Linked DNA regions of Homo sapiens: region 2 is reported to be linked to region 1. Evidence: microRNA targets listed by miRTarBase, many of them from high-throughput screens and not tested one by one. Region 1 holds a microRNA gene; the other region holds the end of a gene's coding sequence.
The links. Region 1 holds the annotated microRNA hsa-miR-4462 (UGACACGGAGGGUGGCUUGGGAA, at 2,356-2,378, opposite strand). A microRNA usually pairs through its seed, bases 2 to 8, with sites in the 3' UTR of a target mRNA and lowers its output. Matches are read on the target gene's strand: a 7mer-m8 pairs with bases 2 to 8, a 7mer-A1 pairs with bases 2 to 7 and ends in A, and an 8mer does both.

Region 1 (4,389 bases):
CGGCCTGAACTCCTTTCTTAATTCCTCCCTCTCCTTTAGCCTCCATAGCAAATCTGTTTCCTAGCCTTGCTTGTTTGATTTACTCAACAGTTTCAAATGCATCTGCTTTTCTCCCTGGACGCCAGGGCCTTAGTGTGGTCCCACTGTAACAGGAGAGCAGTGGCTAAGGGCACAAGGCTGTGGGGTAGGAGCTGGGGTCTGAATCTTGGCTTTACTGTTACTTGCACTGTGACCTTGGACTAGGGTTGCTAGATTCAGGAAGTCAAAAATATAAGATGCCCATTTGAATTTAATATGCAGTGTTTGGGATATATTTATGCTTTAAAAAATTCCTTGCTTATCTGAAATTCAAATGTAACTGCTCATTCTGTATTTTATCTGGCAACCCTACCTTGGACAAATTCTTTAACTTCTCAGTTCCCATGTCTATAAAATAGGGATAATAATAGCACCTACTTCAAAGGTGGTTCTGAGGGTTAAATGAGTTAAAAATATAAAATGCTTAGAACAGGATGATAATGACCATCTCACTTAATTAGTGTATTAAGAAGTGCTTCATACTTGAAAAATGCCTTGCAAATGCTATTGATGTGTTATTTTTGCTGTATCTTTCCTCTCCCCTGACTTCATCAGAGGCAGCAAACCAGCAAAGTGTGGGTGAGGGAGAAAGAGGTTAGACCTAAGGGGAATTTCCTGGCAGGAAGGATCAGTCACATCCCTCCTGCACAGGAGCCCCAAAACTTGAAGATGCTGCAGCTGGTGACATGTGGGCTGGGGAGATGGGTGGCAGGGCTGTAGCATGCAGACAGTGACAAGCTCTCTAGGACAATGAGAATGAATGAACTGTGACTACCCGAGCCACAGAGATGAGTCACACAAACACCTCCAGGCTGGCTGAAAGAAGCCAGATACGAAAGAATGCGTACATGGGACTCTATTTTTTTTTTTTTTTTTCGCTCTGTCTCCCAGGCTGGAGTTCAATGGTGCAATCTCGGCTCACTGCAACCTCCGCCTCCTGGGTTCAAGCGATTCTCCTGCCTCAGCCTCACGAGTAGCTGGGACTACAGGTGCGTGCCACCACACCTGGCTAATTTTTGTATTTTTAGTAGAGACGGGGTTTCACTGTGTTGGTGAGGCTGGTCTCAAACTCCTGACCTCGTGATCCACCCACCTTGGCCCCCTAAAGTGTTGGGATTACAGGCATGAGCCACCGCATCCTGCAGGACTCTATTTATATAAAGTTCAGAAACAGGGAAAACTGAAGCACGTTGTTGAGGGAACACACAGAGAAAGGTAGGAAGCGACTGCCTGGGACCTCTGGGGAAGAGAAGGTCAACGGGAAGGGATCCGCAAGCTGCTGGGTGCTGGTGAGGTTCTGGTCTGTGACTGAGGTGGTGGCTACTCTGCTTTGAAATAATGTGTTAATGAAACATTTGTTTCATGCCCTTTTCTGGACGTGAGATTTATTCCACAATGCTAAAAGGTTACAGGAGAGGGAAGAGGGTCACGCTTGGGAAGCACCTAAAGCTCACTTTCTTCCTGGAAGGCACCTGAAGTTCTACCTTCTTCTAGAGAAGGGCCTCCAGGGAAGAGGTGGAAGCCGACCTTTCCGTGCCCCCAAAGTTAGAAAATGAAGCTAGACAGCGGGGCAGCCTGCGTGATGCCGGCCTGAGTCAGACTCATTAAGATTCCTTCTCAATCTACCCTGGGGTCCACAGGGCAAAGAGAAACCTGTGAACCATGCAGGCAACTGGGTTGAGAGAGAAAGATTGGCAGGGAGGGGGGAGAGAGGTGGAGGTGGGGAGGAAGACAGGTGGGGTGGCGGGGAGATGGAATGGGGAAGAGAGAGGGGGAGAGAGGCTGAGGACCCCAGGCCAGTGCGCCAGGTCTGGATTCTTTAGCCAGTCCATTCTAATGACAGCTCTTCAGTGCGCCCCTCCCTGCTTCCCCCCAGGAGCAAGGATAATTACTGGAGATAATGATCACTTAGGGGGCAGGGGGCACTTTTCATTAACCCCAGACCTGGTATCCAACTGCCCTTCCCGAGGAGTCTGCCCCTCACCCCATCCTGCAGGGCCCACTCCTGCTAGCCCCCACCTTGGGCCGTGCCACTGGCAAGTCCCTGTGCCTGTCTTCACCTTAATTCCTGGGTGAGTGACATTTAAGGGCAAGCTCTTCATTGGGCCATAACAATTTACAAGCCAGGCAGTGGTGGGTTGTTCTGAGGCCCGCGGGGAGCGGTGGCCCTTTATCATCTGCCGGGGCGAGGGGGCCAAGTGATGCATGGCTCCTCATTAAAGCCCCACCAACAACACCGGGGAAGTAAAACATTTTAGCAACCCATTCACTTTTCATTTCCCAAGCCACCCTCCGTGTCAGGAAAGCCACTCCTGACTTAGGGCAGCTGGGAAGCACAGAGGCCTTTACGTGTCTTATTTATATCTTCCCGTCCCTCCCTCGGGGCACTGTCTAGGGCAGGAAGCCAGCAGGGCTTCACGCCGCCATCCCCTTCATGCTCCCTGAGCTGCTCCCCATCTCGCCCCTGAGAACAGGCAACCCAGAACCATCTCTTGCTGGGGTTTACAAAGTGCTTTCATTCACCCACCGCATCTTCACTGAGCTCCTCAATCGCTCAAGGTCTGTCAGTAGTAAGTGCAGAGGCTGGATTTGAACTTGGGTATCTGGGGCACATTTAAAGCCAGACCTTCCCACAAAGAGGTGAGACCAAGCAGGGGGAGCTCAGGGGAGGTGACCTAGGGTTGGCCCTGAAGCCAGCAGGGGTGTGGAACGGGGATGCCCAGTGGCCCTCCCTGGGAGACAAGTCATTTTTGCAGGAGAAGGTGGGGTGGGTGGGGAGACGGAGTCACCGTTCTTTCTCATCTCAAGCTTCACTACTGTGAGGCTCTGAGATTTTCTCTTTCCATTTGTGCCTCTCTCTGGCTTGTCCTCTCTCCCCTGTCTTTTCTTTCTCTCCCTCACCACGCCCCTACTTCCTCCTTTTTGTCTGTCTCCATCTCTCGGGCATTTTCTAGAGAAACAACCCGGTGAGCTGGGAAGAGAAAGTGACGTGGCCTTGGCCTGCGAGCACCCAGCTTCACAGCCAGCTGTGCCACCGCCGGCTGAGTCTGGACATCTCTGAGCTTCTTCCGTTTCTCACGTGTAAAATGGGTCTAGGCCTGGCGTGGTGGCTCACGCCTGTAATCTCAGCACTCTCAAATGAGTATGGGACCCTGGAAAGTCCTGGAAGTCTCCTTCTTCTCGAGAACTTTTAACATCAAGAAAAGCCCTGGCTGGGCGCGGTGGCTCACACCTGTAATCCCAGCACTTAGGGAGGCCGAGGCGGGTGGATCACGTGGTCAAGAGATCGAGACCATCCTGGCTAACATGGTGAAACCCCGTCTCTACTAACAATACAAAAATTAGCTGGGTGTGGTGGCGAGTGCCTGTAATCCCAGCTACTCGGGAGGCTGACGCAGGAGAATCGCTTGAACCCGGGAGGCGGAGGTTGCAGTAAACTGAGACTGTGCCACTGCACTCCAGCCTCGGTGACAAGAGCGAAACTCTATCCCCAAAAACATAAAACATAAAAAATAGCTGTCTTTCATTTTCAACAGTGGCTGCAAAGATGAGAAGCCCAGCCCAGAAGAGGTATACAGTGGATGCTGGTACCGGAGGCAGACCTGGCCCACAGTCCGTTACAAATCCAGGCTCCTCTTTCCTCGGTGTGGAGTGTCTGGCTGAGAAGTAGCTGCCCAGCCAGGAACCCCATTTTTCAGAACCCTTTGTGTATATGTGGGGCCGAATTTCTAGTTCTCCCCTATGGACTCTGTGCAAGGCGTGGTGTGCTGCTTTCAGATGGAAGGATGAAGAATTGGTCTTTCCCTGTCTGGCGGCTGCACAAGGAGAAGTCAGAGGTCTTCAAGGGGGCAGAGCCAGAGGAGGGAGGGAGCCAGGGGAGGCCACCCTGACAGCAGTGCTGGCGCTGGACTGTGACTGAGCAGGAAATGAACTTTCACAGGCTGAGCCACTGAGATGGGGCTAGCCTCTTACAGCAGTGGCTTTACCTCTTCTTTTTTCCATCCCTCCCTGGCAACTGTCTTGATCCCCGTCCGGCTGTCCAGGCCTCATGATCTGGAGGGAGGGCGTCCCGTTCCCTCTGACCTAGGCCCTTGCCCTGACTCCACGGTGGGCCAGATGCGACCATCTTGGCCATCAGGCTCAGGGCAGACTGGGGCCTTCTTTCCAGGTGCCAAGCGCAGTCCCCACCTCAGTGGATGCTGACAGGACGCTCTGGTGGCCCAGGAGGTCTTGCTTAGTCATACGATCCTCTGTGGATTAGTGTATGGGGACCCAAGCCACATGGGACTTTAGAAATCCCCCTTTCCCTCA
Region 2 (4,389 bases), not on the chromosome of region 1:
ACTGGGCAGGAACTCGGAAGAGAGCTATGAGGTGGAGACGTAACATTTGGAATCAGGGGTATTACAGACATTTACAGCCACGGAAATTGATAAGATGCCACCAAAGGAATTAATGGGCAAGCAGAGTAGAACTGCTTGAAAAAACAAATGCCACTATGCCATGCAGTGTCACTAACCTAAGTAACCTTAGGTCAGTCATTGTCCCCTCTGAGACTTTCCCTATCCAAACAATGAGATTGGATTAGGTCACCACTAAGGTTCTCTCCCTAACATTTAGTGATGCCACTGTTGCAATGTGTGGCTTTTACATTATGAGGCTACACCAAGAGCCAGTTCTTCAACTTGCCCTGCAATCAGAAAGGTCCTAATGGGTCTCCTATAACAGAAGCCTCACAGCTGGGGATGCCATTTCCTCTCTAACCTCTGGAAAGACTGACCACCTGCCTGCTATTCTCATTGCCTGCTACTATGTAAAAACTTCTGGTGTCAGTCTCCATCTGCTGGGGGGAAAATCACTCTCAGAAAGAAACACCTTCTCCTGCCAAGGCTTTGGGTGGGGCTTTGAAAGTTGTTTATGACAACACTGAGTCAGCACATTCATCAGGGTCAAGCTCACAGTTGGAGGGAATTGGAAGAGGGCCTTAGTAGAGAAGAAACCTCCAGCTGAGGCTTCTTCAGTCTCAAAGGGAATGGAATCAGAATCCACAAATTCATAATGGAGATTGGCAGGGAAGCATTGGCACCATGCTCAAATCAGCGGTTTCCTCCCAACGTGTTAGGCAGTTCAGATTAGAACAACAAAAAAGTACTAAATTTATGGACTTGATCACCCCAAGAAGTCATAAAAGTTCAAAACTGGTTTTCAAAAGCTGCAAAATAGGATTATGTGAAAACAAGCTCTTTGGGGAAGCGCGTCTAAACTACTGAGACTACTGAGCAGGGGTAGCTGGGTTCTCCCCAGATGTGTATCTTAGGGTTTGTTTCTGGGGCCGGAGGGATCACAGATCTGACCTAGTGTGACATTTACATGCATTAAGAATCAACATCCTTTCCTCTAATTGAGTTGTTTTGTTGCCTGAATCCTTAGGGTTAAAATAAGGGTACTTGGCTGGCCTCTGAAAGTACAGGACACCTTTATTAGCCTCTGAAAACGCATGGTTTCTTCTCATCTCTGAGGGTGAATATACTAAGAATTCTTATAAATGGTATTTCCCTGTAAGACAGGTGATGACAGTGCAGGCACAGCTGATGGGGACTGCAGTCAAGTCGAATGGAACCCAGTGACACATAAGCCCTCCCTTCTGAGTGCTTCCTCACCAAAATCACACTTTGCTTTTTCACACAACATATATTTATTCAGAAAAAAATTTGCAATAAATTATAATAAAAAAGATGACACGAAATATAGAATCCCACTAGCAGCTTTGCTTAGTGATCAAGACGTTTTTGGGAAATATAACAAACAATTACAGAATAAGAAAACAGTGAAAGGGAGACTAATGCAATGTCACCACATGGATTTGAACCATTTCTTCCCTAAGACAGCAGGTGCAGAGTCTTTCCCTACCAGCTGAATCCGAAATCCTTACTTCAGAGCAGCTACAAATTAGTACCTTAGAGGACTTGGCAATTACAGGTTGGGGTGCTGGAATAGCCATGGTAGGGAAGCAGATTTCTTCTGTCTGGGTCTACATCTTGTCTCCTCTACCTAGAGATTGTCTAAAACTCTCAACTCTGTATATGTTCCAGGATGAGCTGAAAAAAGGTCGAGGCAGTACACCAACTTAGTGTTTTGATCTGATGTAGAAAGAGATAGGATACTGCATACGTGCAGCACAGAGCCTCCACTAACCACACCCTTGATCACCCAAAGATCCCAGGTCAGTGATATGCTAGAAAACAAGCCCAGGAAAGGTATTTCCCTGTGGTATGACCCTACCCCAGTGTCTATCATCTGCCTCTTTTTGTGATCACTTTCTGGCCTTGCGGAGATGACAAACCTGTTCTGCTCTCAGTCTTCCATTAACTAAGTTCAACACCTAGCCCCTGACCTATCATACCTCCAGATCTGTGGCACCAGTAACTTGACTCCTATTGCTTTAACTCTCAATCAGGAAAGGGTTTAGCCATATTGCAGAATACGTACCTTCCCCCCCACCCCCACCAAGAAACAGGAGAAATCACTGGTGGTGCCTTGGATATGCTAGAAATGTCACAGAGTCAATGCCCAGGATTGTACATACAGCCTGTACGTTATGCTCCTTGCAATTAATGTAAACAGGCAAGGGTGGTTGTAACAAAAGAAAACCAGGAGGAACCCAACTGCATCAGGCAGTTTTGCAGTCAGTGGTTGGTGGCTTGTTTGTCAACCAATATAGATTAATTTATTTTAAAAAAAGGCTGTACCACAGAGCTTGAATAAATGAAAAGCTCAGAGGGTCATCTTGTATGGGAGAGGTAAGGTGCTTGGTTGGTCCTGTTGGCCAGTCTCTTTACACAACACTGGATATGGTGACTGGGAGCCAAGGGGAGTCTCTAAACCCTTTATGTGAAGGAGCTGGTTGTAGAGCCCAGAGTCAGTCCTGCTGAGGAAGGAGGTGACATCTGCCCTTGGTATTTCAGAAGACCAGAGAATGGATTCTAAGGGTCATCCACAATACCTTTGCTGTGGGAAGGAGCAATAGCTCTAGATGGGCCTGCCTGAGGTACAAGACTTCCTCTTTTACTGTGGGGCCAGTGTTGCTCTGGAGGTGGATGTCTAGGCAGGAGATGGGTCTCAGAGACACCCAGGATTAGTCCTTGTGTAAAATTTGAATAATAACAGGAAAAGGATAGTGGGAAGCAGGACCTGTCAAACATGAATGCTCTCACTCTTCAGATACTCAAAGTGCTTCCATTCTGATTGTGATTCTCTCTCATCGATGAGATGCCATCTCTAATAGTCCCTACAGTTATGCTACTAAATGTGATCTAAGAGAATATGGTTCCACCCAGTGTGGAGCCATGAAAAGGCCAATGTTACAGAGACATAAAGATGCCATTGTAGTAGAAATGCACAAATGCATGTAATAACTGCACGCAGACAGTGAATTCACTGTTGAGGACACCCAAGGAGTCACTAGCCTCACTCAGACTTCGTTCAAAGTGACAGAACGAGGGGAGTGGAGTGCAAAGGAGTGATCCAGGAAGGGGTGGGTCAAAAGTGCAAAACAAAGGACTCTAGACAAGTCTCAGCTACAGCAAGTAGTGCTTGTAGGCCTAGAATGGGAAGATCTCAGAATCTAGGCCTAGGGTACTAAGGACAATCATGACAATTGGGTAGGAGGGCAACAAACACATCCCTAGGTGAAGGAGTGTAAATACAGATCTTTTTGCCTTATAAAGAGAAAACACAAAAACACCAAAATATGGTAACTTTGGCTTGGCAATATAAGTCTAAAAGTATTTTTCTGTGTAGGATATGGTAAAGGAGGGATTAGGAAACGCTCTTCCTTTTTACTATAAACAGAACTTGAAATTCTGCAATAGACCCTTCCTGTGGCATGACTTTTTAAATCATTCTGAAATACTTGGAGCCCGAGATCGTCTGCTTCTAGAATATCAGAGAACAGTAAAAGCCTTAGTCTTCTTCGCTCCCAAGCAGAAAGCCCAGAAGGAACTGAATAGCACGCTGGCGGTCACTTGGAGTCTGTCTTGCCATAAGGTTGGGTGGAGGCCTCAGGAGAAGACTAGTGAAGAGAGTAGCTACAAGACGAGAGAAAGACAAGCGGAAACTTCTGTCAGACATAACCTAAGCAAAACCTCAGGGCTGGAGGGCCTGGGGACAAGGACTATTGACTGCCATGTGCCTGCATATGCAGTAAGGTATATACTGGATACAATGCACTAAGAGTATTCTCAACAAACGCCCCGTGTTGCATGAAGCACTCTTACCGATCATGTTGGCATTGACGCTATTGTATTCAGAGAATTTTAAGAGTTCTCGAAGGAATGCCATCAAGTAACGGAAAACATTTCTATGGCATCTCGGAAGCTGGGAGATCACCTGTTTTTAAAAATAGGGGCAGGCAGTGAGAAAAACAGGTGGAAGATGAAAGTAAGAGGAACTTACAGCTGCTGTAATAGTAGTCTATAATCCAACCCTTGCAGGACCCATTTCATCTGTCTAACTTCTATTATCTCCTCATGGCCAACACAATACCTTCCAAATTATAACTTCAAAGTAAGAGTGGCCGTGCTGTTTGGTCCCTGTCCACTCAATGACCAGGCCACGTGGTCATCACACATTCATACGCACACCCTGCCTCACAATAGGTCAGTGTTCATCTGTTCTTTTCCCATTTCCGTAGGCATGTAGCCACGGCACCTACCAAGCTGAATGGTTTTCTG

Region 2: the mRNA of OCRL is a reported target of hsa-miR-4462. Seed matches in the 3' UTR shown: 7mer-A1 at 1,394-1,400.

Annotation. Positions count from the first base shown.
Region 1 is chr6:37,553,011-37,557,399 of GRCh38, forward strand. MIR4462 (microRNA 4462) reads right to left here and starts at 2,412; the gene lies at 2,355-2,412. RefSeq lists a silencer at 723-1,017 and enhancers at 872-1,372, 2,999-3,088, 3,639-3,688, 3,799-3,898, 4,109-4,318.
Region 2 is chrX:129,589,501-129,593,889 of GRCh38, reverse strand. It overlaps OCRL (OCRL inositol polyphosphate-5-phosphatase), which reads right to left. Exons shown (of 24, transcript NM_000276.4): 23 at 3,934-4,045; 24 at 1,334-3,744. The coding sequence ends at 3,620. Among named protein-coding and RNA genes, the nearest start is that of OCRL, 51 kb to the right of the region's middle.